5 linked regions of the Homo sapiens genome follow. The protein of the gene in region 2 purifies or fractionates together with the protein of the main gene of each other region. This does not show direct contact. Each region holds a gene or a part of one and is shown on either strand. Other genes may lie near its edges. The genes, in order: TTC1, SORCS2, TMEM169, FNDC3A and DCAF10.

Region 1 (6,755 bases), on a different chromosome or scaffold from region 2:
GTAGTTATATCTACATTTAAGCTTTCACAAATAGTTAAGATTTACTGCTGAAATAAACACACGAATACACTATACTCTCTGAGAGCTTTTCCTGTTTTTACCAAATCTTAACTGCTTTCCTCCTCAATTATTCTTGATTTATGAGTCCTGCTGAGAAGTGACACTACACTTGAGCGTGAATTATCTTCCCAGCCACAGGACAAGTGAAGTTAGCTTGATTAACAGACTTTGGCTACTATTATTTGGTTGTGTCCAACAAGAAACCTTTAATACTACATAGACCCTGTACGGAATAGCACTTCTTTCCCAAATCATCAGGGGTCAGCTTCATGTGCTTTTGTGGTAGGGCACACAGTTTGGTTGTAAAGTAATCAATTTTTATTTATTTATATTCTTAAAATGGAATAATGTAATACAGGCTTACTGAAAAAAAAAGCAAATATTACAAAATTGCATTACATATAAATTAAAATTCCCTAATAATCATACCTCTCAAAGTTACTTACTGCTTATACTTTGGTGTATATCCTTCAAATTTGTATGTATAAACATATTTTCACATAGCCTTAAAAGAAATCATCACTGTTGTATAACCTGATTAATTAATTTGACATTATATTACAGGCAGCTTCCCAGGTCAATACCTACGATTCATCTTTTTAAAAAAATTTTTTAAATTATTTATTTATTTATTGAGACAGAGTCTCATTCTGTCACCCAGGCTGGAGTGCAGTGGCGTGATCTCGGCTCTCTGCAACCTCCGCCTCCTAGGTTCAAGCAATTCTCGTGCCTCAGCCTTCTAAGTAGCTGGGACTATAGGTGTGCACCGCCATACCTGGCTAATTTTTGTATTTTTAGTAGAGATGGGGTTTCACCATGTTGGCCAGGCTGGTCTTGAATTCCTGGTCTTGAGTGGTCTGCCCACCTTGGCCTCCCAAAGTGCTGGGATTATAGGCATGAGCCACTGCACCCGGCCAAGATTTACCTTTAACAACTGCATTGTATACTACATAAATATAACAACAAAATTTAAGTAATACTCTGGGAAGAACACATTTTTCTCTCCTACTATACCCTCCCAATAGGTCTGACACCAGATGAGAGTGTTTTCCACACTAAACAATTCTCCAATGGACACCAACGGAGTGTCCTATAATTCAATTCAGTTCTGTCACTATCTCCAGGTAGACAGTGTCTGATCCCACAGGTTAAGAGTTTAGTCTCATAAGCCTGGCCCCACTTCAGACACTAATCACAAGTCCCAGGTTGTGACCTATGATTCCGACTGAATGGTTAGCACAGGGTTCTTACCACCCTCTCTGTGGGTTCAATAATTTGCTAGAATGGCTCACAGAACTCTGGGAAACACTTTACTTACACTTAGTAGTTTATTACAAAGGACATTATGAATGATATAGAACAGCCAGGTGAAGAGACACACAGGGAAAGGTAGAGGGAGAAGGGGTGCAGAGCTGCCACGCCCTCTCTGGGTGCTACCCTCTTAACACTTCCATGTGCTCATCAACCTGGAAGCTCATCAGATTTCTAGTTCAAGAGTTTTTATAGGCCAGGCGCAGCAGCTCACACCTGTAATCCTAGCACTGTGGGAAGCTGAGATGGGAATATTGCTTGAGTCCAGGAGTTCGAGACCAGCCTGGGCAACATAGTAAGACTTCATTTCAAACACAAAAAAATTTAGCAAGGTGTGGTGGAAGGCGCCTGTGGTCCCAGCCACTTGGGACATTGATGTAGGAGGATTGCTTGAGCCCAGGAGGTTGAAGCCTCCAGTGAACTATGATCGCACCTCTGCACTCCAGCCTGGGCAACAGAGCGAGACTTGGCTCAAAACACAAGAAGAAAAAAGCTTTAATGGAGCTTAATCTCCAGCACTTGCCCTCCTCCTTTCCTGGATTTTGGTAGGTGGTGCCAAAAGTTCCAACCCTCTAAAACTCTAATCACTTAGTCTTTTTGGTGACTGGCCCCATCCTTCCTTAGGCTATAGATAGGCCAGATCCTAAAAGTTATCTCATTAGGATGAACTCAGGTGTTATCAAAAGGGGTACATTAAGAATAACAAAAAAATACACTACACTATCAGAAAATTCCAAGGGTTCTAGTGGCTCTGTAACAGGAACCAGGGACAAAGACCAAATAAATTTACTATACTACAAATACCCTGTTTAACATTGTCTAGCTTTCCAAAATTATGAATGATGCTGCAACACATCTATGTATATACATTTGTGTATATTTCTAATAATTTCCTTGAAATAAATGGCTACAAGAGAATCAGCGTTAATGCTGTCATGTCCAATATGGTACTTACTAGCCACATGTGACGATTTTAAAATTATTTATTTATTCATTTTGAGACAAGGTCTCACTCTGTTGCACAGGCTGGGGTGCAGTGGCGTGATCATGGCTCACTGCAGCCTTGACTTCCCAGGCTCCAGGGATCCTCCCACCTCAGCCTCCTGAGTGGTGGGGCTACAGGCTTGTGCCACACGTGATTATTTTTATTTTTAAAGGCTTTTTAAAAAATTTTAATTAAAAAAAAATTTTTTTTTTTTTGGAAAGACAGGGTCTCACTATGTTGCCCAGGCTGGTCTCAAACTCCTGGGCTCAAGTGATCCTCCAGCCTCAGCCTCCCAAGTGCTGGGATTATAGGAATGAGCCACTATGCCTGGCCCATGTGACTATTTATTTATTTTCTGAGACGGAGTTTTGCTCTTGTCTCCCAGGCTGGAGTGCAATGGCCCAATCTCGGCTCACTGCAACCTCGACCTCCTGGGTTCAAGCAATTCTCCTGCCTCATCCTCCTGAGTAGTTGCGATTACAGGAGCCCGCCACCAGGCCTGGCTAATTTTTTAATTTTTGGTAGAGATGGGGTTTCACTATGTTGGCCAGGCTGGTCTCGGGTCGAACTCCTGACCTTAGGTGATCTGCCTGCCTCAGCCTCCCAGAGTGCTGGGATTATAGGTGTGAGCCATCCCGTATGACTATTTAAATTAATTACAATAAAATTCAGTTCCTCAGCCGTAATAGCCACATTTCAAGTGCTCAATAGCCTGATGTAGTCAGCAGCTACCATACTGCATGGTGCAGGATGTAGAACATTCCTATCCTTGTAGAAGAGTCTATTGATAGCCCTATCTAAAGAAATGGTCACATAAAAATTTGGTATCTGCATCCCATGAAGTGACATAACAATTTAAATTCTCAATATTAGTATATGAGTTCCAACATCCTCTCCTTGTCAACATCAGATCAATATTCTGATCTGATAGATGAGACATAATGTTTTAGTTAGTATTTTTTTTTTTTTTTTTGAGACAGAGTCTTGCTCTGTCACCCAGGCTGGAGTGCAGAGGCCTGATCTCAGCTCACTATAACCTCCATCTCCCAGGTTCAAGCGATTCTCCTGCCGCAGCCTCCCAAGTAGCTGGGATTACAGGCGCACACCACCACGTCCAGTTAATTTTTGTATTTTTAGTAGAGATGGGGTTCCATCATGTTGGTCAGGCTGGTCTCGAATTCCTGACCTCATGATCCGCCCGCCTCAGCCTCCCAAAGTGCTAGGATTACAGGCATGAGCCACCACGCCCAGCCTGTACTTTTCATCATTATTAATGAGGCTGAGTCTTTTCACATTTTTTGGCCATTTTTTTTTTTTAGTCATTGTTGAACTATCTGAACTTTATTTTAAAAGATTCAAATATAACACTATCCTGTTTCTGATGAGCTATTAAAGCCAAACCATATATGTAGAAGACATTTCTTCAATCTGTTTCGCTGGCTTCTTGAAAATTTTGGAAAGATATTTATCAAAATAGCATACAAACACCTAATAAGAGTAGTACCACAGTTAGCTGAAGGCAATCTGCACTCTTATAGGTTGTTTCCTTAAAGTAGAGTCAGTGGCTTACATTTCTCTAAATAATAAGACTAGCACTGCAGTATGTTACTGTTATGAGATATTCTTACAAATTTTCAAATTAGCTATGAAAACACTTAGACTGATATATAAATGAATAGAAAATATTTATGTTTTAAACATGAATACTACTGTATGATTATGTTTATATGAATGTCTGGAACAGGAAAAAACCACCTATGGGACAGGAATCAGAAGAGTGGTTAACCAGAGACTGGCAGGGTTGGGAAAGGAATGACTGATAAAGCACACAAATGGAGTTTCTGACATGATGGAAATGTTCTCTATCTTGATAGAAACGTGAACTATGCAGGTGTATACAATTGTCAAACTCACTGCATTCTACACATGAGAACTGATATACAGTTTCACTAAATTATATCTCAATTTTTAAAAGGAGGAAAAAAGTGAAAAAAAGTATTGTTCTACTTAGAATATTAAACTTACAGGCAATAAAAATAATTATCCTCACTGGGTGTGGTGGTTCACGCCTGTAATCCCAGCACTTTGGGAGGCCAAAGTGGGAGGACTGCTTGAGCCCAGGAGTTGGAGACCAGCCTTGGCAACATGGTGAGACACTGTCTCTACCAAAAAACCCACAAAAATTAGCCAGGCAGGGTGGTGCAAGCCTGTTGTCCCAGGTGCTCAGGAGGCTGAGGTGGGAGGATCCACTTGAGCCCAGGAGGTTGAAACTGCAGTGAGCCGTGATCACATCACTGCACTCCAGCCTGGATGACACAGTGAGATCCTGTCTTAAAAAAAAAAAAAATCATAAAAGTATTTATAGAACTTAAAGTATGATTTTCTGGCCTAGGAGACACAAAAAAAGTTTTACTAAATTAGAGGTAGGGATCAGACTTTGTGACACCTTGAGCCAAACCATTCAACTGTCAAATCCAGAGGGCACTAGAAAATTAATATAATTTCAGGGCAAAATATATTAAGGTATCAGAAAAGCACTACTAACTTTTTAACATAGATGCATAATCAGTGTTTCTAAAAAGCCTGAAACCTGTTATAATGTTATGGAACAGTAGTTAATTTTTTTGAGCTGTATTTGCTGTGGTAGTTTATGAACTTGGCTCACTTTTGCCCTTTTTCCTCCTGTTCTGGTGGTGCACACTAGCACAAAAACGAACACGTTCACATTAAAGCTAACTGATTTGATAATGAAAAGCGTCTAAGGAGAGAGAAAGAGAAGATGCTCCTACCCACCCCAGGCTACCTTCCCACCCCCACTGTTAGGCTTAGGCTGAACATTTATTATCTCATCTCAATACCAATGTATCACAACCTGTTCAGTGAGTGAGCTCCTTAGTGGCATAAACTACAATCTAGTTCAAGTTCTTTGTAGACAAACTCAAGACATTACAGTAACTCTTCAGAGACTACCTTGCTTGTGCAATCAGAAGGAAGTAGGACAGCAGGACTTCAGTCTCCAAAAGTGAAGGCTTGCCCAGTTAAGGGTGTGGCCCCAGGGCAAAGAAACAGGAGAGTGTACATTTTATTAGTCTATCTGCTTTGTAGGAAGACAGATGTTTTTGTTATTACATTATACATTATACTCTAGCTTTGGAATCCAACAGATTTGATTTGAGAATTAGTTTTGCAATTCATTAGGTGTTTGATCTTGGGCTAGTTACTTCATCCCTCTAAGCTGTTTCCTTATGGGAAATAACAGTATGTATCTCATAGGCATGTTGTGATGATTAATGAAAACACAAGTAACATTTTAAGTCAGTGGATGGCACATTGTAGGCATTCAACAAAGGATAGCTAGCTATAATCATACACAATTCTGTTTCTCAAGACCTCTGCAACCAAAACCCCACCAAGATATTCAGGCAGTCATATTTTGCTAACAAGGGATTAGCATAAACAGGAAATGTTCATAAACATAAATGTAGCATAAACATAAAAATGTTCATTACAGAAATCTCAGCAGCCAACCGTAGAAAAGTTCATAACAGAAAACTAAAAAGTATATATACATTTTGAAAATAAACAAAAAGACTGTTACATTACAGACTCCTGAAGTACAAGATGAACATAACTGAAGGTTCACAGAAAATAATGAAAATTTCTTTGTTAAGCAGACACACTCAAGTGCTTCCCTGTCACGCCACCGATTTATCTCAGATCCAACACTACTAAAGCCATAAGAAGACAAAGGGGCAAGTTATTCTTTACCACAGATGAGGTGGTCTATGATACAGTATCGACCACATTTTAAAATGCAGTGTAAGTGGCAGATCTTGCACAATAAATAAAATACTTACCTGTTTCTCTTCATCCGACATGTTTTTTTCCAGTTCTATTAGGTATTCTTCATCTAGTTCAGAGGAATTCACATCTTCATTAGATTTGTTCTCAACCTTGTCCGCTCCTGGCTCCTCCTCAAATGAGGCACTGCAGTCATGAAAACACTCCTCTTCTCCCTGGTCCTCCTGGAGATGGGCCTCATCATCCCTGAGCAGCTTACTCTGGGAATGCTGATTTTTGGGATCAGGAACTGGAGGGCCAGCACACTCGGCTTCCTGAGTATCTGTAACCTTCAAACCATTTAACAGATCCTCTGGAACCCCACAGTTCTCTGACTTCTCCCCCATGCTGCCCAGTGAGGGAGGTGACGCTAAAGCTGGGGGAAAACAAAACAAAACTGCTATATAATGGTGCTTGTATTTTTAAAAGTTCTGTTTCAAACCTAAACAAACCTCTGCATTACAGCCAAAAAACACACCGTAATTTCCTTTCACTGGAATTCATTATTTAAAAATACAGCTTATCATAAGTAATAATAATGTCAAATCGTCATTTTAAC
Region 2 (3,500 bases):
TGCTTACCCATGGGGTCTGCTGGGTGCACTTTGCGGAAGTCCCCATCCTTCTGATTCTCCTGTGAGCCGGGAGGATGGGGAGCCGTGCTCTCTCTCGACCTGGGCCCTAGTTTCGTCATCGTGTTTCGGGTGTCAGCCCTGGGGTGCAGAGGAAGGGCCTGGAGCCAGTGGGATGGGCTCCTTCTCTTGAAGTGCTTGTGGTCCAAAGCGGGGTGGGGGCAGAGAGCCCCAGGGATGCAATTCAGGAGGAGCGAAGTGGGGCCGGTGTGGAGGCACAGTGCAGGGAGAGCAAGGTGGGGCAGGGGAAGCTCAGTTCACCTGGGGAGGGGGTCACATGGGCCACAGGTGGAGGAGGATGAGGATGACTGGCAAGGCTGGGGAGGTGTGGCTGAGGGGAGCAGCAGAGATCTCTGAGGTGTAGAGGGCAGGTGAGCCTGGTGGAGGGGCTGCCCGTGGCCATTGCCTGTGCTGTGAAGCAGGGGCTCCCTGAGCAGGGCTCCTGCCCATGGTGTTTCCTGGCTGGGGTCCGAGGGAGGCTGTTGCTGTGGTCTGGCCTTCACAGACTCACTCTGTGGCCTGGGTGGGGCGGGCCGCTCTGGGATGGGGAGCTGCGTAGACCCGCTTCCCTGGCCTGGGTGGGGCGGGCCATTCTGGGAAGGCAGAATACAAACTCTGCCTTCGTTTGTATTCTCATCCAAGTTCAACAGATGAGACCTTGACTGTGGATCCCCCATGTTCTGTCCTCTCTCTGCACCCCCTCAAGTGCTGGTCTGTTCCTGTTGCCTCTGAGGACCCCTGAGAAGCTCCCAAACCCACTCTCCCACTCCCCAAAATCAGTTCACCTGACCTAAGGTGCCCTGCCTTGCTGGGTCCTTGCCTGAGGGACCGACACTCCCGGGGAATGCGAGCAGGAGGGGTTATGGGATAGAAACTGGCTTTGGGCTGGAAGTCCACCCCTCTGGTGCACAGTGGGGAAGCGCAGAGGTGGGGGAGGCTGGATTGTCTTCGGTTGCCCCGCGTGCAGGGCAGCAGCGTGGATGGGCTCTCGTGCTGCTCTGGAGGCCCTGATCCCCCCTCGCTGGAAGTGCTCAAAAGGAGGCTCCATGTCCATGCTCCAGGCCACTGCAGGGACTTTCGGTTTGGGGTGGGAAGCGGGACCACCAGGGGCCGACTGAGGGGTCCAGAGTTGTGGTTGTGAGCCCAGATTCCCAGCCGGACCCAGGGGTGCACTCCATGCTGTTCCACATGGCCTCTGGCTCTGACCCCGGGGTCCCTCCCCTGCCCTCCAACACATTAGTGCTGCCTTCCCTCTCCTCCCTGGGGAGCCCTGGGTTCTCTCCCTGCAGCGCTCAGCTGGGCACTCACTCCTCCCTTCCCATCATGCTGGCCACCCATGTAGCCAGTCTTCCCCAGGCCTCAGTTTCCCCATCTGTAAGGTGAGCGTCAGGACCAGACCATCTCCAAGGTCACTACCAACCCGGACGTTGTTTATGCTTAGTACACATTTGCTAATTTATTTGTATTTTATTTATATGAATGGAGACCGGGAATGAAGTAGAAGAGACTTTGGAATGCCCAGCCCAAGAACCTCACCGCAGCCTCTTTCAAGTAGTAATGAAGGAGGCAGATTTCCATGAGAGTTGAGCTTCAGGCACAGCTGGTCTCACCCGTGCCTGCTGTTCACGCTTGGATGAGGACTGAACCTCTCTGAGCCTTTTTCCTCATTTATCAAATGAGGATCATGGTTCCTGTGTGTCAGGCCAGTGCTGGGGCCACACACTCCATGGATGGGGGCCTGGCCAGCAGAGCCACCAATGTCCTCCTTCATCTTATTTCCTAAGAGTGTCGACCTCACTTGCATCTTCACTGTCTTCTTGAAACTAGCTCAAGGCCCGGCTCGTGGTGGCTGTTGGCCTCAGCTCTTTACCGAGCTTCTCTGTGTGCCTAGCGCTGTTAGCTGCTGAGGATTCAGTGAGGGGCCAAGTCAAACTTGGCCCCTGCGCGGGTGAAATGTTTGGTCTGGACAGGAATTCACCCCAGCGCGTTCTAGGTGCCGTGTGAATCTGCGCTGGGGAAGTCTGGGAAGATTTCCTGGAGGAGGTGAAGATGGAGCTGCTCTGCAGGATGAGTAGAGTCCCGGGCTGAGGAGGAGGTTGGAATGGTGAGAATATTAAGGCTGAAGGAGAGGCCTAGGGGCTGGAGCAGCCTGGAGCGCTCATGGGCACAGGAGAGACTCGTGCGTTGATCAAGAAGCCTGGCTCGAAGTCATAGAGACAGCCCTGTTAATAAAGTTGCTGAGCACATTTCACAAATCCACTTTTACTTTAATAAAGGGCGATTTAATTTGTAGTTGCGTGAAGGTTCCTGAGAGTATTCTAAAGAGGTCATAAATTAGCCTCATTCCTCGGCACGCCCCTCAGATGAGAAGGCAGCCCAGAGCTTGCGTGGGCCTCTCGGCGTAGCCGTTACTTTATTTTATGGTGATTTTTCAGAGTCAGGCTAAGACTTGTGCAGATGATTCGATGGAGAGCAGACTGGAGTGACGGGCGAATCAGCTGGGACGCTGCCGAGAACCCCTGTGCCTTTTCCGGTGCAGGAAGAAATGGAGGGGAAGCTTGTACGTTGCCTCCTCTTTTGGGGCCGCCTTGTCTTTCTTTTTTCAGACTCCAAAGGATGAGTTATTTATAGGTTCTTACGAATGGCCCACTTTGTCCTCGCCCCTCCTTAGTCGCTAGTTTGGGTGGGTGCTCTGTGGATTGCAGGGATGCCGATGACCTGAGAAGCCTGGCTGTGCTGCAGCTGCTGTTCCTGACCGACGTCCTCCCCTTTTGGAAGTCCAGGGAGCAGAGATCCCTGGCTCTGGCCACCGGGAGGGCAAGGTCTCCGTCTGTAGCTTTGGAAAGGTGAAGGCATGTGTTCTGCATTGGTTCACATCCTGCTTTTTCTTGGAAAGCGCCGTCCTGGATGTGAGCTTGGATTCTGGGTGTAGAAGAAGTGCAGACATGGGGCTGTCAGTCTAAGTGGGTGGTGGGGGTGGGGAATGCCCTGTACCTCTCTCCCCGCTCCCAGCAGGTTCCCACAAGCACAGACCATCCCTGACCTGCTCTGCAAGGCTGTAAAACACAGACTTAGGCAATTTGCTCACTGCTGATTGATATGCAGCCCGCTGAGGGCAACAGCAACGTCTTTTCCATTCAGCCTCATGACTCGGGACCGCTTCCCAGAAGGCCTATGGTGCTTGTCACCTCTATTCCAATTAAGCTCCATTTGTCATTAAAAAAATGGAATAGGGATACTTGAGTGAGTGAGGACTCTCCTTGGAAGACTGGAATAAAAGGTAAAACTCCAGTGTCCTTTTGAGGTGGAAAATCTCCTTCTTATTTTGCATTTCTATAGCAGTCAGTTACTGTATTTGCACAGAAAATTACAATCATTTAATTAGTTTCTTCTCACACCAGCTCGAAGATCTTAAAATAACAGCACTCTCCTTCCTTAGTAAT
Region 3 (6,755 bases), on a different chromosome or scaffold from region 2:
ACACATCATGGTTGCATTAGCTTCAACAAATGTTCTTATATATGCCTCCTTATACAAGGATAACATGGGCATAAGTTTCATGGAGTAGATATTGAGAATTTCTGGGTCATGAGGTATGCATGTTTTGAACTGTGAATTTTACTAAATATTTAATAAACGTTGACAAGTTTCCTCCACAAAGTGGTTGAAGCGGCTTCCACTTTCACTAAGGTGCATGAAGTATATCCATTTGCTCATATTGATGTAATCACATTTTACCCAATTTTTGGCAAGCCTACATGTGAAGGAATACTATATCTCATTGTTGTCATAATTTGCCATATGATTTTCTTCTGGCAAATTTTCTCATAATTTTCTTTATTCATATGAAAGTCAACAATTATTGTTTATTTTACATACATTAAGTAGTTAGCATAGTCTGCTTGTGTTACCAGTTTTTGCGTATAAATCAGCCTCTTCCATTTCATTAGGAATTCTGAAAGGGTGGAGATTTCTGTATCATCTAGAAAAAAATGTAATAGGTGCTCAGTAAATACTGACCATTTGTTGAATGAAGACTGTAATATTGCACCAGGTCAGTGGCTCATGCCTATAATCCCAGCACTTTGGGAGGCTGAGGCAGGTGGATCACTTGAGGCCAGGAGTTCGAGACCAACCTGGACAACATGGTGAAACCCAGTCTCTACTAAAAATACAAAAACTAGCCCGGCATGGTGGCACATGCCTGTAGTCCCAGCTACTCAGGAGGCTGAGGCAGGAAAGTCACTTGAACCCAGAAGGTGGAAGTTGCAGTGAGGCGACATCATGCCACTGCACTCCAGCCTGGGTGACAGAACAAGACTCTGTCTCAAAATAAATAAATAAAAGGTGGTAATATTGCAAGAAGAAATGTATCACCAAGAAGAAATAGGACAGTGAGCATATGCCTGTCTGTTCTGGAAGATGCCCTTTTGGTTTCCTTCCCATGGCTTTAAACAAGTGGGCTAGAGAGACTTACCATCATCCACAGGATAGTCTAGGAAATCATCTCCCTCCTCCTCTTTAGGCTGATCTCCACCTTCTGATTCTCCGGGCTCCTCATCTGTTTTCTCATTGTCTGAGCGGTAGATGATGATGGATTCTGGGCGTGACTCTTTCCTCTTCTTTTTCCTGTGCCCCATTGTGGATTCCCCATCCAGCGCCAGGGCAGCAGCCACAGCCTTCCTGAGAGAGCCCTGGTGGGGGCTTGGAAGCTGGACCTGGCCTTCTACTGCTGTTGGCTCTTCCATTCCAGACCTGACGTCTACCTATGTCTTATAAAGAGTTGGACTTGTTTGAGTAAACTCACAGTTCACACATCACAGAACTTCTTCCTAGATGGGGCTATGCAAAGATGTCCCAAGGATGCATTCCACCTGAAAGATAGGAAAGCAAAGCCATCAACAGGAAGCAAATGGGGTGAGATGGACAGGAATGTGGGAAACGATCCTCAACTTAGCAGAAGCCTTCCTCTCCCTTTACTTCTTGCAATACTTTATTTTGGGAATGCAATCTAAATCTCTTATAATAGACAGTGAATAAACTTTTGCTACAGTAATATTTTTGTCATTTATACAAACATATAATATTTGGCAAAACCCATGTGAAGGAATACTATATCTCATTGTTGTCATAATTTGCATTTTCCTTATTCATATGAAAGTCAACAATTATTGTTTCTTTATTTTATATACATAAGTAGTTAGCATAGTCTGCTTGTGTTACCGATTTTTGTGTATAAATCAGCCTCTAGTTGGAGCATGCAGAGTATAAGGAAGTTGGGTGAGGAAGCCTTACCAGTAGGTGAGAGTTAAGAACCACAGGTAGGCTGGGCACAGTGGTTCACGCATATAATCCCAGCACTTTGAGAGGCCGAGGCGGGTGGATCACCTGAGGTCAGGAGTTTGAGACCAGCCTGGCCAACATGGCAAAACCCCATCTCTACTAAAAATACAAAAATTAGCTGGTTGTAGTGGTGGGTGCCTGTAATCCCAGCTACTTAGGAGGCTGAGGCAGGAAAATTGCTTGAGCCTGGTGAGCTGAGATTGTACCACTGCACTCCAGCCTGGGTGACGGAGCGAGACTCTGTCAAAAAAAAAAAAAAGAAAGAAAAAAGAACCATAGGTGGCTGGGACCAGTATTCCAGACTTCTGGCTATTGAATCATACATTAAAACTATACTCAAATGGATAAATACAACATTAAGCAAGCCACTCAAATGGTACAACCTCACCAACTGTGTCTACCTTGCTATTCTGTAAAGGAAATCTGTCTCCTGGCTTCTTGTCAGCCCACAATCTCAAAAAGTTACTGGGATGTGTCCTATCACGTGCTGCAAGAGCGGTGGAGAGGCTTCACTTTCCCCCTTAAAATAACAGTGTCTCTCCACTTTCTGTTCTGGACAGTGCAGGTCTGTATATCTGTCCTTCATTTTTTTTTCCTGGTAACTTATTTGTTAAAGAAAGCGGGTCATTTATCTTGCAGATTCTCATAGCCTGGGTTTTGCTGATTGCATCCCCACAGTGTGTTCCTCTGAACTCTGTGTTATGAGTTGATAGCTAAATAGAAAGTCTTGATCAATTTCACATTGAAATTTTTTTGGTTGATGGTTTGTTTTGTTTGGCAGGACAATTTTAGAGGTGGTGTTTGTACTTCCATTAGAAGTCCCCTAATGTCTGGTTGACTCTTTTTGTGAAGTTAACAGCCCGTTAATGGCCATTGACTATACCCATTAAATCATGGGGGTTACAAAATGATATTCCATTTCTCTGACTTCTTCATTTATTAGCTAGAATACTCTCATGCACTTTTAACATACCCAGTTTTAATCCTAGTGAAAGAGGCAAATGGTCCTGCTGTTATGCAATATTATTGGCATTTATACTGTGAAAAATAACTTATGAACTATAGTGGTACCCGCTATGGATATAAAAAGTTTCCAAGCGATTTACCAAAAAATTCCCCACTTTTCAAATAACTGTGCATATTATTCAGAATCGCAAGCTTCTACTCACAACCCTGCCGCCCCACACTCCTCGAGGCTGTACACTCTTCAGCAACTCCAGGTTACTGGCTGTTACTTTTGTTCCCAACTCCCAAATCCCTCACTGTATTTCAGTGCTCTCTGAGCCTTATTTTACTGCCACATGTACACCATTTGCCATCCCTTTATTTCCAATAATAAAGCTTCTTCTCTCATGTGTATTCAAATGTTCCCAATGTCTAGTGTTCTGGCCCAGTGGATGGGAGTGGGGCAGTGGAGAGAAGAAAGAAGCAAAAATTCCACTAGGCTCTAGAATTCCACTAGGCTCCATTCATTTTGAAGCAAATTTATATATCTTTGGTAATTACCATGTGACAGGAAGTACTGTATAGCATATCTCTTAAAATGCCAGAATACATATTTTTTTTTCTCATTTCAATGTTTCTAAAATTTAGGTAAATTTTAAGCTCAATGGAATGGCTTTTTCTCCCCCTCCAGGCAGGGGAGTTCTCCTCTGCTGCCCTCTCACCCAGTATTTCCTCTAGCCTCTGTTGATTTTCTTTGTCTTTCCATTGGATTGGCAGATGTTGGATCTAAATTAACTTTATAACTGGGCACTTAACCCAATGCCTGGAATAAATCAGGCACCCAGCGACACAATTGAGAATCTTAGTGGTAGGATCCACAGGATGAAATGGGCAGGTTTCACTACGTCCTCACTGCCTGACTTTGTCTAGGGGGTGTACTAGGGGCAGAATGAAAGCCATTATCTTTAAATTCTTATCCATGGAGCTTTCTGGACCAGGAGATTCATTTGGCTGAGGTGTCTAAAAGTACAAGGATGTACACAGGAAGAAGCAGGGGAGAGAGCCCTCCCAAGGTAAATAGCTCCAGAGGACAATTAATCCAACCATTAGAATGCTGAGCAGGCCTTGGGCATTGATGAGCTTGACCAGGGCTCTTCTACCAAAGTGGCTTCTACACAGAGGACAGTGGACCTCTACCCAGAGGAAACTGAATGGGGAGGCTGAATGCAATCCACCCCCAGGTGAAGATTTTATATGTATACACACACACACACACACACACACACACACACACACACTTCATTATTACGTTAAGTTCCAGGATATACATATATATGTATATCTATATATGTACTTATACATATGTATATTTATATACAAATGTGTATATACATACATTTGTAATTCTACTCTCTAAGTGTCTATGTTTAATACAAAAATGTTTTCCCTGGTCCAAGTCCTCTTATACACTGACACTCAGAAAGCTGCATCATGGTAATTCTATGGTAGGAATGACCTCTGAACAAACCACTTTGTACTTACTTGAAGGTGCAATGATCACAGCTTGGGAGGCCACCCTAATCCACCGTGTTTTCCTACTTAGATCATCTGTTTCTCTCTGTTGTTTTCTGAGGCAGCTTGTGAAGGGCCTTCTTTGGCCCTTCTATACAGCATGAATTTTCAAACTAGGGGTTGAGACCCCGAGGAGATTAAAGGACCAGAGCTTCAGAGCTGGGAGAAGGTTTATGTTCTGTACTCCTTACTCCTTCTTTAAAGATGTACCAAGATGTTCAGAAGGGAGACAGAAATGTTAAAGAGTACACGTGAGAAGGCAAGTTGCAAATCTCATACTTCTTGTTCCCTTTTCCTCTCTCTTTGTTGAGGGGGTGGTGCTCTAGGAAGATGTGGCAGGGCAAAGTGAACACATGCATGGAGATGATGACCCTTATTAATGGGCCTTATAAACATTAAAAAGTGGCCAAGTGCGGTGGCTCATGCCTGTAATCCCAGCACTTTGGGAGATCAAGGCGGGCGAATCACTCAAAAAAAGAATTAATTTAATTAAAAAAAAACATAAAAAGGTGTAGTGTTCGACACTCTTGATTTGGTTGGGCACAATGGGAGAGGCCAATGTTAGATAACAGGAAGAGCTTCCTGAGCCCAGGGACAGACTAGTACAGAAAATAGTAGCTAAGAGAAGCTTTGGAGTCTCTTGGGGATATAAAAGATAAACATGGTCATCTTGTTGGCTGATGGAGGAGAGGGACAATCCTATCAGAGGCAAAAAGAGAGATGACTTTTGAACATCCCATTAAAACCTTAGACAAGAAATATGAAATGTAAAGGGTGAGCTCCTGGCTATTCACCTTAGGGGGGCTATTTTTGCTTCAGGCACAGCTCATTTTAGAAAGGTGCCCAGCCAATGTCTACTTACAGTAGTCACAGGACAGAGACACTGTCCTTGATTTACCTTGAAACATGATTTCCTCATCTCCCTACAATTAGAACACTATCCTTTGAGACTACAAAACATTCCCACAAACTTAGGAAAAGATGGGTTATTTTGTAGTCATGGTAAGTAGACAATAGAACCAGTTTTAAACCTGTTCAATTGATCAACAACAATCTCCCTCAGTGTCTTAGTGCATTTGGGCTGCCATAAGAAAATACCATAGACTAGGTAGCTTATAAACAACAAGAATTTATTTTGTACAGTTCTGGGAGCAAAAAATCCAAGATCAAGTTTAGGGGTTTGGTAGGACTCACTTTCTGGTTCATAGATGGTGCCTTCTCACTGTGTTTTCACGTGGCTGAAGGAGCTGACTAGCTCTCTGGGTCTCTCTCTTTTTTTTTTTTTTTTTTTTTTTGAGATGGAGTCTCACTCTGTCGCATAGGCTGGAGTGCAGTGGCGCAATCTTGGCTCACTGCAACCTCTGCCTCCCAAGTTCAAGCAATTCTCCTGCCTCAGCCTCCCAATTAGCTGGGACTACAGGCACACGCCACCATGCCCAGCTAATTTTTGTATTTTTAGTAGAGATGGGGTTTCGCCATATTGGCCAGGCTGCTCTCAAACTCATGATCCGCCCGCCTTGGCCTTCCAAAGTGCTGGGATTACAGGTGTGAGCCACTGAGCCTAGCCTCTGGGTCTCTTTTATGGGGGCACTAATCCCATTCCTGAGGACTCCACCGTCATGACATAAAGCCTCACCTAATGCCATCACTTTGGGGGCTGAAATTTCAACATATGGATTTGGGGGGAAAACAAACCATACCATAACACTCAGCAAACATGTTTTTGGAAATTAACCCATCCAGTCAGTCCTTTGTTTCTGAAAGTCAATCAGGTGAGTGGCTCTGTCCCTGTTTGGCTGACTTTCACACTAGTGTGAGTTGACTTTTGGCCAATCAGGGTCTGGCACTCTGATGATGGCTTTCAAAAATGTATTCACTTAGGCAGTTGTTGATTGAACATGTTTAAAACTAGTTCTGGTGGCTACTTGTTATCAAGGCTACTGTAAAAACAGTGTTTTCCTAAATTTGGGGATCCTTTTTACTGTTAGTTTCCTGCAAGTCTGGAATATATCAGATGTCACAGTACAAGAATATGAATTATCTGTTGTGATGTAACAAATTACCCAAGAAGTAAAGGTTTAAAACAATAAAAAAGTTATTATCTCACACAATTATGTGCGTCAATAAACTGGGAGTGCCTTAGCTGGGTGGTGAGTAGTCTTCTCTACCTGCTTCCTGCCTATAGAATTTGGAGGTCCAAAAGTGTTTTTTTGTTTTTATGGTTTCTGAACCTTTTAGTATTCTGTGAATAGAATTTTCTCAACATTTCTGTGGGATTCCTATAAATAGTTTCTCTGAGTCAGAAGTGTGAGAGTGGCTTAGCTGGTTTTGTTTCAAGATCTCTAAAGATGTCAGGGCTGCAGTCATCTGAAGGC
Region 4 (6,755 bases), on a different chromosome or scaffold from region 2:
AATTTTCAGACTGTTAGCATTGAATAAGCATTCATTATTCATTCTCTAATTTCCAAAAATTTTAGAAACATCCAATCAAAAATAATGGGATGCATTCAACTTATAGATAACATATTAGGAGAAATATGTATGATATTCAACTTCATTGAACAGTTCAAGTGGGTAATGTATTGGAAATTTTATATTATCATACTGCTTTTGTAAATCTCTAAAAAAACGTCACCAAGTCAACTAAAAATCTGCCTGGGAATTGAGAATTCTCTTTTTTCCAGATAAAGACAAGGAAGATTAAAATAGAAACTTAATCTCATAGCTCAGGTCTCTATGCCATACTTGGCAAATTTTATCAATATGACTTTAGTTAGAAATAATTTGTAATGAAAATTGTGATGTTCTGAGCATCTTTTAAAATGTACATTAACAAAACAGTATTCAGAAACAAAGCTAAACCGGAAGCCTGAGAAGAAACAGTTATGGTCGGACATGAAATTTAGTAACAGACTTTTGGTAAATCATGTCAAATTGGGAAATTTACCAAATATCCTATTTTTCTTAATCTGATGAAAAACAGATTTATTTTAAGTGACATAGAGTTCCTGGCATCAAACTTTTGGGGTAACTTATCACTCCTAAATAATGTTCATAACTGTGTTTTTATACTAGTTTGTAAAACACTTTAATAAGGTATCATAAGGTAGTATAAGGTTTATCTAATAGTTATTTCCATTTTAGGTTTGTATCCCTATACAGAGGACCATGTCATACATACAAAGTACAAAGACTTAATGAGTCAACATCCTATAAATTCTGTATTCAAGCTTGTAATGAAGCTGGGGAAGGTCCCCTCTCCCAAGAATATATTTTCACTACTCCAAAATCTGTCCCAGCTGCCTTGAAAGGTAAGTTATACATCCTGAACTTATTTTCTTTATAATAAATTACTTTTTAATGTATTTTCATAAATGCTTTGTTTACTGATATTAAAATTTAGCATCCAGTATATGTCCACCAGTTATACAAAATCGTATAGGCAAGCCCAACTCTACTGAGAGTTCCACTCAATAATAAAAGCTGTTTTATCTGGCACGCTCATATTCAGACAAGTACTGGCTTTTGTCACTGATGTTTTTAATAATGTAGCATAAAAATACTAAATTGAATAGGAAGGCTGGTTTTCTAATGAGGTCATTTGCTTAAAGAAAAAAATCACAAACTCTGGTTGTTTAAACGTTTTGAGTTATTGATATTACATTCATTTGGATTTCAGAAGGAAAGCTTGGTCATCTGTTAAGCAAAACAAATTCTTCATTAATGTGGGTTTTTCAATTAGTTTTACACACACATGTACACATATTTACACACATTTGTATATACATTTATCTTTTAATTTTAGAGGGGTTCTTATTTTAAAGTGACTCTGGCAAGGGCTACACTCTATTTTTAGCTGAAAAGTCTATAAAGTTAATTGCTCTGAAGACTAATCACAGAGACTTCTAGAACCATATCCTAGATCATGTACTTAAACCTATCATTTGTTAAACAGCAGAACTCTTCTTGACTAGTCTTTCTAATAATATTGAGTTTCACTGAGTCATTTTTCTGTTTGCTCATCAAGTTTAGTGTCTCTTAGCTTTAAGAAGAGTGCTGACTATAAGCAGGGCACAGTGGCTCACACCTATAAGCCCAGTGCTTTGGGAGACTGAAGTGGGAGGCTCACTTAAGGCCAGGAGTATTGAGACCAACGTGGGCAACATACTGAGACCTGCCTCTCTACAAAAGAAATTTTGAATCAGCTGGGCATGGCAGCATATGCCTGTGTGTGTAGCTGCACAGGAGGCTGAGGCTGCATTGAGCTATGATCGCACCACTGTTGTCCAGGCTGGGTGACAGAGTGAGATCCCATATCTTAGAATACAAGAGTGCTGATTTTAACCTCTTTGGATGCAAATTTCAAAAATTCACTGATACTTATTTCAAGTTTATAAGTGGATTTTAAATATTTGTTGATTTTTATTAAGACAAGTGTCTGCATGATGTACCAAATTAAAAATCAAGTGGAACAGATATTATTTATATTTGTTTCCTACAGCCCCCAAAATAGAGAAAGTAAATGATCACATTTGTGAAATTACATGGGAGTGTTTACAGCCAATGAAAGGTGATCCAGTTATTTACAGTCTTCAAGTTATGTTGGGAAAAGATTCAGAATTCAAACAGGTATGTACCAAGATATTAATGTGTGGATGCATATTTTTACCCTTTTTTAATTTTTATGTATTTTCAGTGTAAGATTTGGCCATCTTTACCTTTTAATTCATAAATATTTATTCAGTATATATTATGTTCCAGAGATCTCAAGATTCCAAATCTTTTCAGTATGAACTACACTTGAACAGATTATTCATTTATCTGATAAGTATTCATTGAATTCTGTGCCAGGCACTCAGGATATAGCACTGAACAAAAAGTCCCTTGCCTCCATGGAGCTTACTTACATTCTGGTGGAAAAGAAGACACTATAAGCAAGTAAACATGACAATATATTGTCAGATATAAGTGTAATGGAGAAAAAACAAAATTGGATAAAAGAAATAGGGAGTGGAGGGGGAGGGCACTGAGTGTTATTTCATTTGGGGCACTCAGCTGACATTTCAGCATGGCCCAGAGGAGATGACTATGGAGAGAAGAGTGTTCCAAGAAGATACGCTGAGGCAGGAACATGCCTATTAAATCTGATGAACATAAAGGAGCCAATATGACTGGATGGAGAGAGCAAAGGGAAGAGTTGATAAGGTCGGATAGTTAATCCTAAGGGGCCTATAGGTGGTATGGAGTGACGTAAGGCATAATAGGCCATACTGTGGCTTTTACTCCACGTGAAATGAGAAGACAGTGGAGGATTTTGACCAGGGTATTCACGTGATCAGACACAACGTTGTTTTGACTATAGTGTTGAAACTACAGTAGGACAAGGGCAGAACTAGAAAGACTAATAAGGAGGCTTTTACAATAATAGTATTAATAATAGTCATAATGCAGTGCTGTAAATATGACATTAGGCATGAAGTTATAATGGAAACCTAGAGGAATTGTCACCTTCCTAGCCAAGAGGTTTCAAAGATAGCTTTCTGATAAAGCAAGAATAGCAGTGAGATAGAGTGGAGTGTTGCCAATGTTTGTTACAACTTTTAAAAAGAATAAGCTTTTATACCACTCCAAAGACTAATTAAATACCTATACATTTCACCTGATTTTCCCTTTTTCCTGTAACCTTAATTTTGAGGGCTTTTAAGCTGGGTTGTTTTCATTGTGTCTTATATTTTCCTCTTCCACTAAAAAAAAGATCCTTCATTTGTTTTATTCCAGTATTGTGCTATTGTAACCACTCTATGTAATATCTTAACTGAAATTACAAAAGATCCAAAGAGTCAGATTAAATCTGGCATGCAATTGTTTTTCTTTATTAAGCCATCTGCAAATTGACAGGATAATTAGATTTGAAATGTAATTTACAGATAAGTAGGTTTCCTTCTAAGGAGGAAGCAAAATTAATATTAAAGAAAATATAATTGTATTACACGTTTAAAGGAAATAGGGATTCCACATTTGAGTAGTATATGAATAACCTTAAGGCTTGTTTGAATGACTTTTCTTGGGTGTATAAACCTTCTGAAATTAGCTTGAGCAGGTTAATCTGTTTTCTTCAGTCCTGTATTTACAGTTACCTGTGTCTCTTCCTGCTTAGAGGTCTTCCCACATCTGAAATACAAAATTGAAAACTTGATCCCATCATCTTCCCTCCCAGTATCTCCTCTCCAACATCTTTACTTCATCAGTGTCATAGACACCAATATCATCTTGGTCTCCAAGCTTTAAATTCTTAGATGAATTTTTTTTTCCTATCAACTCTTAATCAGAATTTGTTTCTAAATCCATAAAACTACATCAGGGCCTCATCACTTTTTACATGTACATCAAGAGTCCCTGTCCTACTCAGCTCCCTTCAGTCCTTCACACAGCCTCACGATTAGGATTCCATAAACACTGTTTTAATGTCACACACCTACAGTGGTCCCTTTTGAATTAACCTAAATTTCCAACTAGTGTAATTAATGTATTCTTCCTCTTTGTACCAGATCTCTTATCACCCTCATGCCATTTGTTGAGGTTTTTCTTTCTTAACCTAATACTGCCAGGCTCATGGAATGGTATATGAAGACACATGGAAAGTATAAAGACAAAAATCATCTATTATATCCATAAGACAAATACATATTTTTAATTTTTACTCAATTTACTTCAGTGTTATGTATACAATTTTACACTACTTTATCATACAACATTCTGTTTTAAGTGAATCCTTTTACAGGTTGAAGCATCCCAAATAAAGTCCAAAATTCAAAATGTTCCACCCAAAATCTGAAACTTTTTGAGGATCGATATGACACTCAAAGGAAATGCTCATTGGAGCATTTCCAATTTCAGATTTTTGGGTTTGGAATGCTCAACTAGTAAATATGCAACTATTCCAAAATCAAAAAAATTGAAATGCTTCTGGTTCCAAGCATTTCTTATAAGGGATACCCAACCTGTACCATCTCCCAAACATGGATCATTTCTACATTCTATTCCCTGAAACATTATGCATCCTTAGAACTAATGTATAGTCACCATTTTCTTTCAGATTTATCTTAAAGCTTCTTTCAGTAAGTTCCTTTATATATTGTTATCAGCATCCACATTTTTATTTATTGCCAATAATTCACTAATTTAATGTCCTTTTATTAAGTACCTACTATATGCTAGATTCTGGAGACAGAAAAATGAGACAGAGATCTTACTTTACTTTGAGAGCAAAGCAATATGTAAAAATTTAGATTTACATCACAGGTACAATTGAGGCAGCTAAAAGTACTTGAAAGCCCCCATGTGTTGGTTCTTCTGACTTGTAGCCCACCAACTAACTGGAGAAACTCAACTGACAAGTCATTTAACCCTATGAACCTTGGTTTTCTCAATTACAGAATGAGTGGTGGGAGGTTGCTCATTATTGGAAATGATAGCTCCTACAGATTGAGCAGTGACTGCATGCTGAGCACTGCGCTAAGTGCTTTAACAAGCATTAGTTCATTTCATCCTCATAATTATCATACATGTTAACTACTAGTATGTCTGTTATACTAAGGTAGTTGGTCTAAAATCACATCTGGAGTGTGAAGTGGTAGAGCAGACCTTGGATGCCAGGGGTGAACAGTTCTAGTATATAGCTTCTTATTTATGCCTAGTGTTCCATTATTGGAACACTAAGCTTGTGGTAGTTATTTATATCTCACTGATCAAGGTTATTGCCAAGGTCTGATTTTTCACAAAAAAAAAATTTGCAACCTCTGGCATAAATGGGTTAATTACTAGCACATTCCTCTGAAAATCCGTGGAATTTCATTCTTTTTATTTCCCTTGTGAGGCATGGCAGAGGAGGTCCTATTTTCTGATTCTAAGTGATCTCCCCTCTCTGGTTTATACAGTGATTTGCCATAGGCACCTATAGAAAGCTCCCCTTATTCATTTTCCATTTCATTGTACAGATATGTTTGAAATTATATGGAAATTTATCAGTTATACAAAGACATAATGGGGGAAGCAAAAGTAGACACTATCCCTTCTTTGATGGAATGATTGCATTGAAAAATGACTTCTTACATTTGAGAAAAGCAAGAAAATGCTTGAGGACCGATTTTGCTTGTTCTCTAGCTGCCCTGGGGCACATCTGCACTCCTTAATTCATCTGTGAACCGTATAAGGGTAGATCCTCGCTTTTGAAATTTCTCTTGCCCCTATGCAACAAACAGATAAGTACTTTAATGGACAGGTATTTTTAACATGTCATTTAAAAGATAAAATCAATGGCATTCACTGGCTTTCACATGAAAAACAATTCTAACACTAGCCAGTTTTAACACATTTTCTGTCCAGCCTTCACACGTAATTCTTCCTTCTAATATTTTATTAACAGATTTACAAGGGTCCCGACTCTTCCTTCCGGTATTCCAGCCTTCAGCTGAACTGTGAATATCGCTTCCGTGTATGTGCCATTCGCCAGTGCCAAGACTCTCTGGGACACCAGGACCTCGTAGGTCCCTACAGCACCACAGTGCTCTTCATCTCTCAGAGGACTGAACCACCAGCCAGCACCAACAGAGACACTGTGGAAAGCACAAGGACCCGACGGGCACTGAGTGACGAGCAGTGTGCTGCCGTCATCCTTGTGCTGTTTGCTTTCTTTTCCATTTTGATTGCCTTTATCATTCAGTACTTTGTAATCAAGTGAAAATATAACTTTATTTTTTAACTCTATTACATTTTATTTTGTCATGTACTAAAATTATTTCTGTATTGCTTTTATAAAAAACAGTGGCATTTAGCACTGGCATTGAGACTATAGCACATCATTTTTGCCATTTTCAGTGCTTATATTGTTAGGTAGAGGCTGGCACTTTATTAGAATGCAAGCCACAAAAATATCAATTTTGTTTTTTTTGTTAGGGTGGGTCTTCTTTTTTTCTTTCCCTCTCTCTTTTTTTAACAAATGCCTTCTTATAGAAAAACTTTCTAAGAGGCAACAATTTAGAATGGATATTTTGACGAATCGGCATGAGTGTAACAGTGATAACCTGATCTGTTTGTTTTAAAGATTATTACCAAGTGAAAAATTCAGAATGAATAGAATTTACACTAACATGCTATATAAAATGTTA
Region 5 (6,755 bases), on a different chromosome or scaffold from region 2:
AATTAGTCAAGATAGGGTTGGGAAAGGGATAGAAGTATTTCAGATGGAGATGATTGGTATGTCAAAGGTCGTAGAAGGGCAGCATATCATGTTACAGGAGGTGAAAAAAAATAGGTTTACAAAGCAAAAAATTTTACTGAAGAAAGACCTGAAGTTGCTAAGGAAGGAGCAAAGGAATAGAAACAGGAGTTACTGTGAGCAAGTAGACTCTATTCCATTTCAATGATGGAAGCGCTTCCTAATCACACGTGGTGCTGGGGTCTCTGGGGTCTCAACAGCAATTGGTTGGAGCATGTAGCAGTGGATGCACACCTGAATAAGGTGGAAAACTGGTGAGAGGAGAAACTATTTTGCTGAAACTTATTCATGGAACCTCGCAGCCTCCTTCCTTCAGCCAAGCCCTATTCCTAAAGTTTCCCTCAAAACACGAACAGTCTGTCCTCAAATATTCAGTTTCTCTCTTCATATCCCGGCCCCTCTCCTCCCAACCTCCTACCGATACTTTCAGGAATTCAGAAGCAGCTATTTCTACTTTTTGGATGTGGGATTTTAGGTGGGAGTATAATGAGAAGAACAGATTTTAGAGCTGTTAGAATAAGGGATATATTGCTTAGTTTTTGTTTGAATCTAGAATGTATTTTCTCATAACAGTTTTGTAAAAGGTGGTTAGGAACTCTTGCACTTAATTCCATAATTTTAAATTACACAATTAACATATATGCTCATTGTGTAAAACCTAGGCAATAAATGAGCAAAAAATACCTAAACATTGCTTATGATCCCAGAGATTAAATGGATATCTAAGGAAATTTTTAATTTGTGTATGTTTATTTTAATATAAACATGGAATCACTGTTTTGTAGCTTGCTTTTTTTCTTACAGTAAATTGTGAACTGCTTATGTTAATAAATATATTTCTACAACATTAACATTTTTCATTAGTTTAAATAAAACCTCTTTGAACAAATATTTTATATTTATATCTTTAGGATAAATCCCTAGAATGAGTTATTGTTATGAAGATTTTTATATCTATTGTTAAATTGCCCTCTGCAAAGATCATACTAATTCTCATTACTATATTCTGATTCCTACATTCTAGACACATGCCTGTCTCCTCATACCCTTGGCAACACTGCATACTGCCATTCTTTTTCATGTTTATCAGGGTGATGAGTGAAAATACTTCAGTGTTTTAATTTTTCAGTCTTCTTACTTCATCTAGTATGCCCTACATTTGTGTAGGACTTAAAGTAATTTTACAGATAGATGACATATCCGTGTTAAATGAGGTAATTTCTCATATCTTTCAGTTAAATATGAGTTAAATCAGCTTACCAGGTAGCATAACCACTGTCACCCTCAAGGACTTCTCAATACAGAGAAGGAGGGGGTGACACAGAATGTAAAAATTAAAATTATGAATTTAATAGAGACCACAATATAAGGAATTTGGCAATAAAAAAGATAAATGGGTTAGAAGGTATTTTCTAAAGAATTCAAAAAATGTTTTAAGTGATAGAAACATTGTCAAAATAAGTGTATCACCTTCTAAAATGACATTTTGAAAAAGTAAAATTGATAATGTTAATAAATTATAGTATGTCAGACCCTGTCAAACTGTCCTCCATGAGAACACATTAGGCACAGCTATAGAGATAATTCACATATTGGAAAATAGAAGCAAAGAAACTAACTAGAATACAGACCTGGAAAACACAGAGATTGAAAATATGAAAAGGAGATTTAGTAACACAGAGCATAGAGAGAAAAAGCATACCATATAGTTAGCCAGAGTTCCTAAAGAAAATAGTCCCAGTTTCTTCAGGAACTCTGGCTAACTATATGGTACGCTTATACCATATAAGCATATCATATGGTGTAAGGGGGACTATTTGAAGACATAATAGCTGAGAACTTTCCAGAATTGAAGAAAGGCACCAAGCCATGATTTAAGAAGCCCAACAAACCCAAGCAAGAATTCTTTCTAGACATATTGTAGTGAAACTGTGGGACAATAAATATAAAATCTTAAAAGACAGAGGAAAAAGGGGCCGGGTACGGTGGCTCACGCCTGTAATCCCAGCACTTTCGGAGGCTGAGGTGGGTGGATCACCTGAGGTTGGGAGTTCGAGACCAGCCTGACCAACATGGAGAAACCCTGTCTCTACTAAAAATACAAAACTAGCCGAGCGTGGTGGTGCATGCCTGTAATCCCAGCTACTCAGGAGGCTGAGGCAGGAGAATCGCTTGAACTTGGGAGGTAGAGCTTGCGGTGAGCCAAGACCGTACCACTGCACTCCAGCCTGGGCAACAAGAGCAAAACTCCATTTAAAAAAAAAAAAGTAGAGAAAAAAGGCCTCAAAGGAGCAACTATGAGAGTGATAGCCAATTAGTCTTCAACCATAATATAAATATAGAGACAGTGGTAATTATTTCAATATGCTAGGAAAAAACCCTCAGTCTAGATTTATACCCAACAAACATAGGTTCTTTGTCCTTGCCAAGAACAAAGATGAAATAAATACATATTCAGACAAGGAAAGCTGAGTAAGTTTGCCAGCAGACCTCCAATAAAGGAATTCTAAGTTCAGAGAGAAGGAAATTATTTTCAAACGGAAGGTCTGAGAAGCTAGAAGGAATGAAGAACAAAAAGTGTTAAATATGTATGTACATGTTAATCTGATAATGTCTTTTGGGATTAATAGAGATGGAACAAAAATAGAAGACAATAATAGCATATAAATTATGAAGTGAGGCCGGGTGTGGTGGTTTATGCCTGTAATCCCAGCACTTTGGGAGGCCGAGGCGGGCGGATCACTTGAGGTCAGGAGTGTGAGACCAGCCTGGCCAACCTGATGAAACCCTGTCTCTACTAAAAATACAAAAAAATTAGCCTGGTGTGGTGGCATACACCTGTAATCTCAGCTACTTGGGAGGCTGAGGCAGGAAAATCACTTGAACCTGGGAGGCAGAGGTTGCAGTGAGCGGAGATCACATCACTGCACTCCAGCCTGGGTGACAGAGTGAGACTCCATCTCAAAGTAAAATAAAAATAAATGATAAGTGACATTCTAAGTTTTTATGTATTTGGGGGGATAATAATATATGTTAACTTTGGGCTTTAATAGGTATTTAAAATTTTCAAGGAACCAAAAGACAAGAAAGATTATAATTTCCAGACTAGTACAAGAAAAAGTACAGAATGAGAAAAAAATTCCAAAAGAAGGCAAGAAAGGAAAAGAAAAAAAGACAAGATATAATAAATAAAAAGCACAAAGAATAGCTGAAAATAAATCCAAACATTACTAGTTGCAATAACTATAAGGTACTAAATATTCTAATTAAAAGACAAAGAGTAGCTTGGCGCAGTGGCTCACGCCTACAATCCCAACATTTTGGGAAGCCAAGGCAGGTGGATCACTTGAGCCCAGGAGTTTGAGACCACCCTGGGCAACATAAGGAGACCCTGTCTCTACAAAAAGTACAAAAATTAGCTGGTTGTGGTGACGTGTCCCTTTGTCCCAGCTACTCAGGTGGCTGAGGCAGGAGGACCACTTGAGCTCGGAAGGTGGAGGCTGCAGTGAACCAGGATTGTGCCACTGCACTCCAGCCTGGGCAACAGAGACCCTGTCTTGCAAAAAATAAAATAAAATTAAAAAATAAATAAAAGAACAGTACCTCTTAAAATCTTACTCTTAATGGCATTCGTAGACTACATTCAGGCCTGCTATTCAGCTGATACTGGTTCAGCTATACTAGTTGTTAAAATATTGATATGTCCATAGTGGTTGAACAGTTACTGTCCCAAGCCTGTTAAGTGTCATCTTAATGCTTCATCGCCTTCCTTGGGACTTCCTATAGTAACCAATTATATAGCAACTAAAGAGTTAAGAACTAGGACAGCAAGAGACTGTCAGCAAACATCTCACTGGAGAACTACAGGGCAGCAGCCATTCTAATTACTCCTCACCCGTGCCTGGCAACCTCCAACACACAAAAAAATCCATAGGCCCAGTGACCATCTGGCTTCCCTAAGAGTAGGGCTGCCTACCTTTCTCATATCACTCTCACATGGCCCCTTTGGGAACTACAGCCCCGGGAGATCCAGAAAGAAGAGCAGTCAAATGAGAGTAATAGTACTGTACTACCGCAGTTGCCATCAAAATATATTAATTCTCTTGGCACAGTATACATTCCCATGGCAGGATAGAATCTACAGCAGATGATCGAGGCCTGTGGGGATGGTTTATGGATGAATAACTTCTGGGATGCACATCCTTAGTTTTATCATTCTTGTTTAATTTCCCCATTATTTAGATAGGATAAGTGTGCCAACACCCAATGAATACCTGCCTACAGTAGGCATTAATGACACTCATGTTATAAATGAAAATGACTACCAAAATACATCTTTTTCTGTCTACCAGACACATTTAGTTGGGGGAATTAAGAAGCAGAAAGTTTATTAAATGAAGGTTCTGTACCTTGGTGTATGCTGTTAACTGCTGTGTTACGTTACCTCTCACCTGGACTGAGGGATTAGGTTTAATATAATTAAGTATATCAATAAATTATTTTTGTGACTTAGTTATTAATATATTTAAACAAATATTGACTATATGAAACTAACAGCAAGCATTTGAAGGGCTAAAAACATTTTAAAATATACTTACTGTTACTTCAGCAAAAGCCAAAAAGAGGATTCAGCTCCCATGAACAATTCTGTTGATGTTAAGAGTGATTTCTTTTTTTTAGGCCAGGTATGGCAGCTCATGCCTATAATCCTAGCACTTTGGGAGGCTGAAGGTGGAGGATTGCTTGAGCTCGAGTTCAAGACCAGCTGGGGCAACATAGGGAGACCTTGTCTCTACAAAAAATTTTAAAAAGTGTGATTTTTTTTAACGTATCATGACTACAAGTTATTTAATGACTATAAATTTAATGTGGACATTCTTAGAAGGGCTTTATCTAGTTTCCTATGTCAATTCATGGTTCAGACAAGGGCATCTGTGTCAAATAAAAGATTATGGCTACAATTTCCAAAAATTAATAAATGATTGAAAATTACTAGAATGATTTAATGAACAATTTGAGCTACAATGGTTATCACCTGGTGAGCATTTTTATAATCTATATAGGTTAATTTATTTAGAAAATGTTTTTAAATTTTATTTATGTTAATTTATATTACCACTGAATTTTCTTTTCTTTTCTTTTTTTTTTTTTTTTTTTTTGAGACAGAGTTTCACTCTTGTTGTCCAGGCTGGACTGCAATGGCGCGATCTTGCCTGAATGCAACCTCCAGCTCCCAGGTTCAAGCAATTCTCCTGCCTCAGCCTCCCAAGTAGCCGGGATTACAGGCATGCACCACCACGCTCGGCTAATTTTGTATTTTTAGTAGAGATGAGGTTTCACCATGTTAGTCAGGCTGGTCTTGAACTCCTGACCTCAGGTGATCCACCCACCTCAGCCTCCCAAAGAGCTGGGATTATAAGTGTGAACCACTGTGCCTGGCCTGAATTTTTAACCTCTTTGAATATCACACTTAACTGTATGTAACAGCCGCTTCATCCTTATATTTTTCAAACACACAAGGAACAGTTATAAAATTTTCACATATGAGACCACAAGTTTCAAAAGATTGGTATCATACCGAATACAGTTTCTCACCACAATGTGATCACTAGAAGTAAATAAAAAGATAACTAGCTGGCATGGTGGTTCATACCTGTGATCCCAACACTTTGGGAGGCTGAGGCAGGTGGATCACTTGAGCCTGGGAGTTCCAGACCATCCTTACAAAAAATACAAAAATTAGCCAGTTGTGGGGCTCATGCCTATAGTCCTAGCTACTCAGGAGGCTGAGGTGGGAGGATCACTTGAACCCCGGAAGCAGAGGTTGCAGTGAGCCAAAATCGCGCCACTGCACTCCAGCCTGGGCGACAGCCTGGGCGACAGAATGAGACCCTGTCTCAAGAAAAATATATATATTATATTATGTAAAAGTATATTATATATAATATAAAATATATATTTATATAATATATAAATATATAAAACATATATTTATATAATATATTATATAAATATATAATATATGTAATATATAAAATATATAATACATAATATATAATATAAAATATATTTATATAATATAATATAAAAATATAATATATTTATATAATATAATATAAAAATATATAATATAAAATATAAATATATTATATAATATAAAATATAAATATATATTTATATATTTATATTTATATATAAAATTTATATATAAAAATATATAAAAATACATACATAAAATATATATTTATATAATATATATTATATATTTTATATTTTTGGAAGTCAAGAGACAAGTATAATTAAAAAGATAACCAGAGACCTGGCACAGTGGGTCACACTTGTAATCCCAGCACTTTGGAAAACTGAGGTGGGAGGATCTGGCAGGAGTTCAAGACCAGCCTGGGCAAGGAAGAAAGACTGTCTACAAAAATTTAAAAATTAGCCTGGTGTGGTGGCATGTGCCTGTGGTCCTAGCTACCCAGGAAGGTGAGGCAGGAGGACTGCTTGAGCTTCAGAGTTTGAGGTTGCCACTGCATTCTAGCCTGGGTGACAGAATGAGACTCTGTCTCAAAGAAAAAAAAAAAAAAAGATAACTAGAAAAGTCTCATTCATTTTCAAAAAGAATTGATAAATTCATGGGTCAAAGGGGAAATTATAATGGAAATTAGAAATGTTCA

The links.
Region 1: the proteins of SORCS2 (region 2) and TTC1 purify together in Homo sapiens (affinity purification with mass spectrometry; one large-scale study listed by BioGRID and IntAct). This does not show direct contact.
Region 3: the proteins of SORCS2 (region 2) and TMEM169 purify together in Homo sapiens (co-immunoprecipitation; one large-scale study listed by IntAct). This does not show direct contact.
Region 4: the proteins of SORCS2 (region 2) and FNDC3A purify together in Homo sapiens (affinity purification with mass spectrometry; one large-scale study listed by BioGRID and IntAct). This does not show direct contact.
Region 5: the proteins of SORCS2 (region 2) and DCAF10 purify together in Homo sapiens (affinity purification with mass spectrometry; one large-scale study listed by BioGRID and IntAct). This does not show direct contact.

Annotation. Positions count from the first base shown.
Region 1 is NC_000005.10:160,010,317-160,017,071, reverse strand, and holds part of TTC1 (tetratricopeptide repeat protein 1), read right to left. Parts: intron 6,573-6,755; 5' UTR 6,544-6,572; coding exon 6,214-6,543; intron 2,414-6,213; exon of another isoform or gene 1-2,413.
Region 2 is NC_000004.12:7,199,038-7,202,537, forward strand, and holds part of SORCS2 (VPS10 domain-containing receptor SorCS2), read left to right. Parts: intron 1-3,500. UniProt on the Homo sapiens protein: The heterodimer formed by NGFR and SORCS2 functions as receptor for the precursor forms of NGF (proNGF) and BDNF (proBDNF). ProNGF and proBDNF binding both promote axon growth cone collapse (in vitro).
Region 3 is NC_000002.12:216,090,477-216,097,231, reverse strand, and holds part of TMEM169 (transmembrane protein 169), read right to left. Parts: intron 1,395-6,755; 5' UTR 1,269-1,394; coding exon 998-1,268; intron 1-997.
Region 4 is NC_000013.11:49,201,068-49,207,822, forward strand, and holds part of FNDC3A (fibronectin type-III domain-containing protein 3A), read left to right. Parts: intron 1-65; coding exon of another isoform or gene 66-204; exon of another isoform or gene 205-726; intron 727-732; coding exon 733-899; intron 900-2,089; coding exon 2,090-2,217; intron 2,218-6,013; coding exon 6,014-6,328; 3' UTR 6,329-6,755. UniProt on the Homo sapiens protein: Mediates spermatid-Sertoli adhesion during spermatogenesis.
Region 5 is NC_000009.12:37,802,443-37,809,197, forward strand, and holds part of DCAF10 (DDB1- and CUL4-associated factor 10), read left to right. Parts: intron 1-6,755. UniProt on the Homo sapiens protein: May function as a substrate receptor for CUL4-DDB1 E3 ubiquitin-protein ligase complex.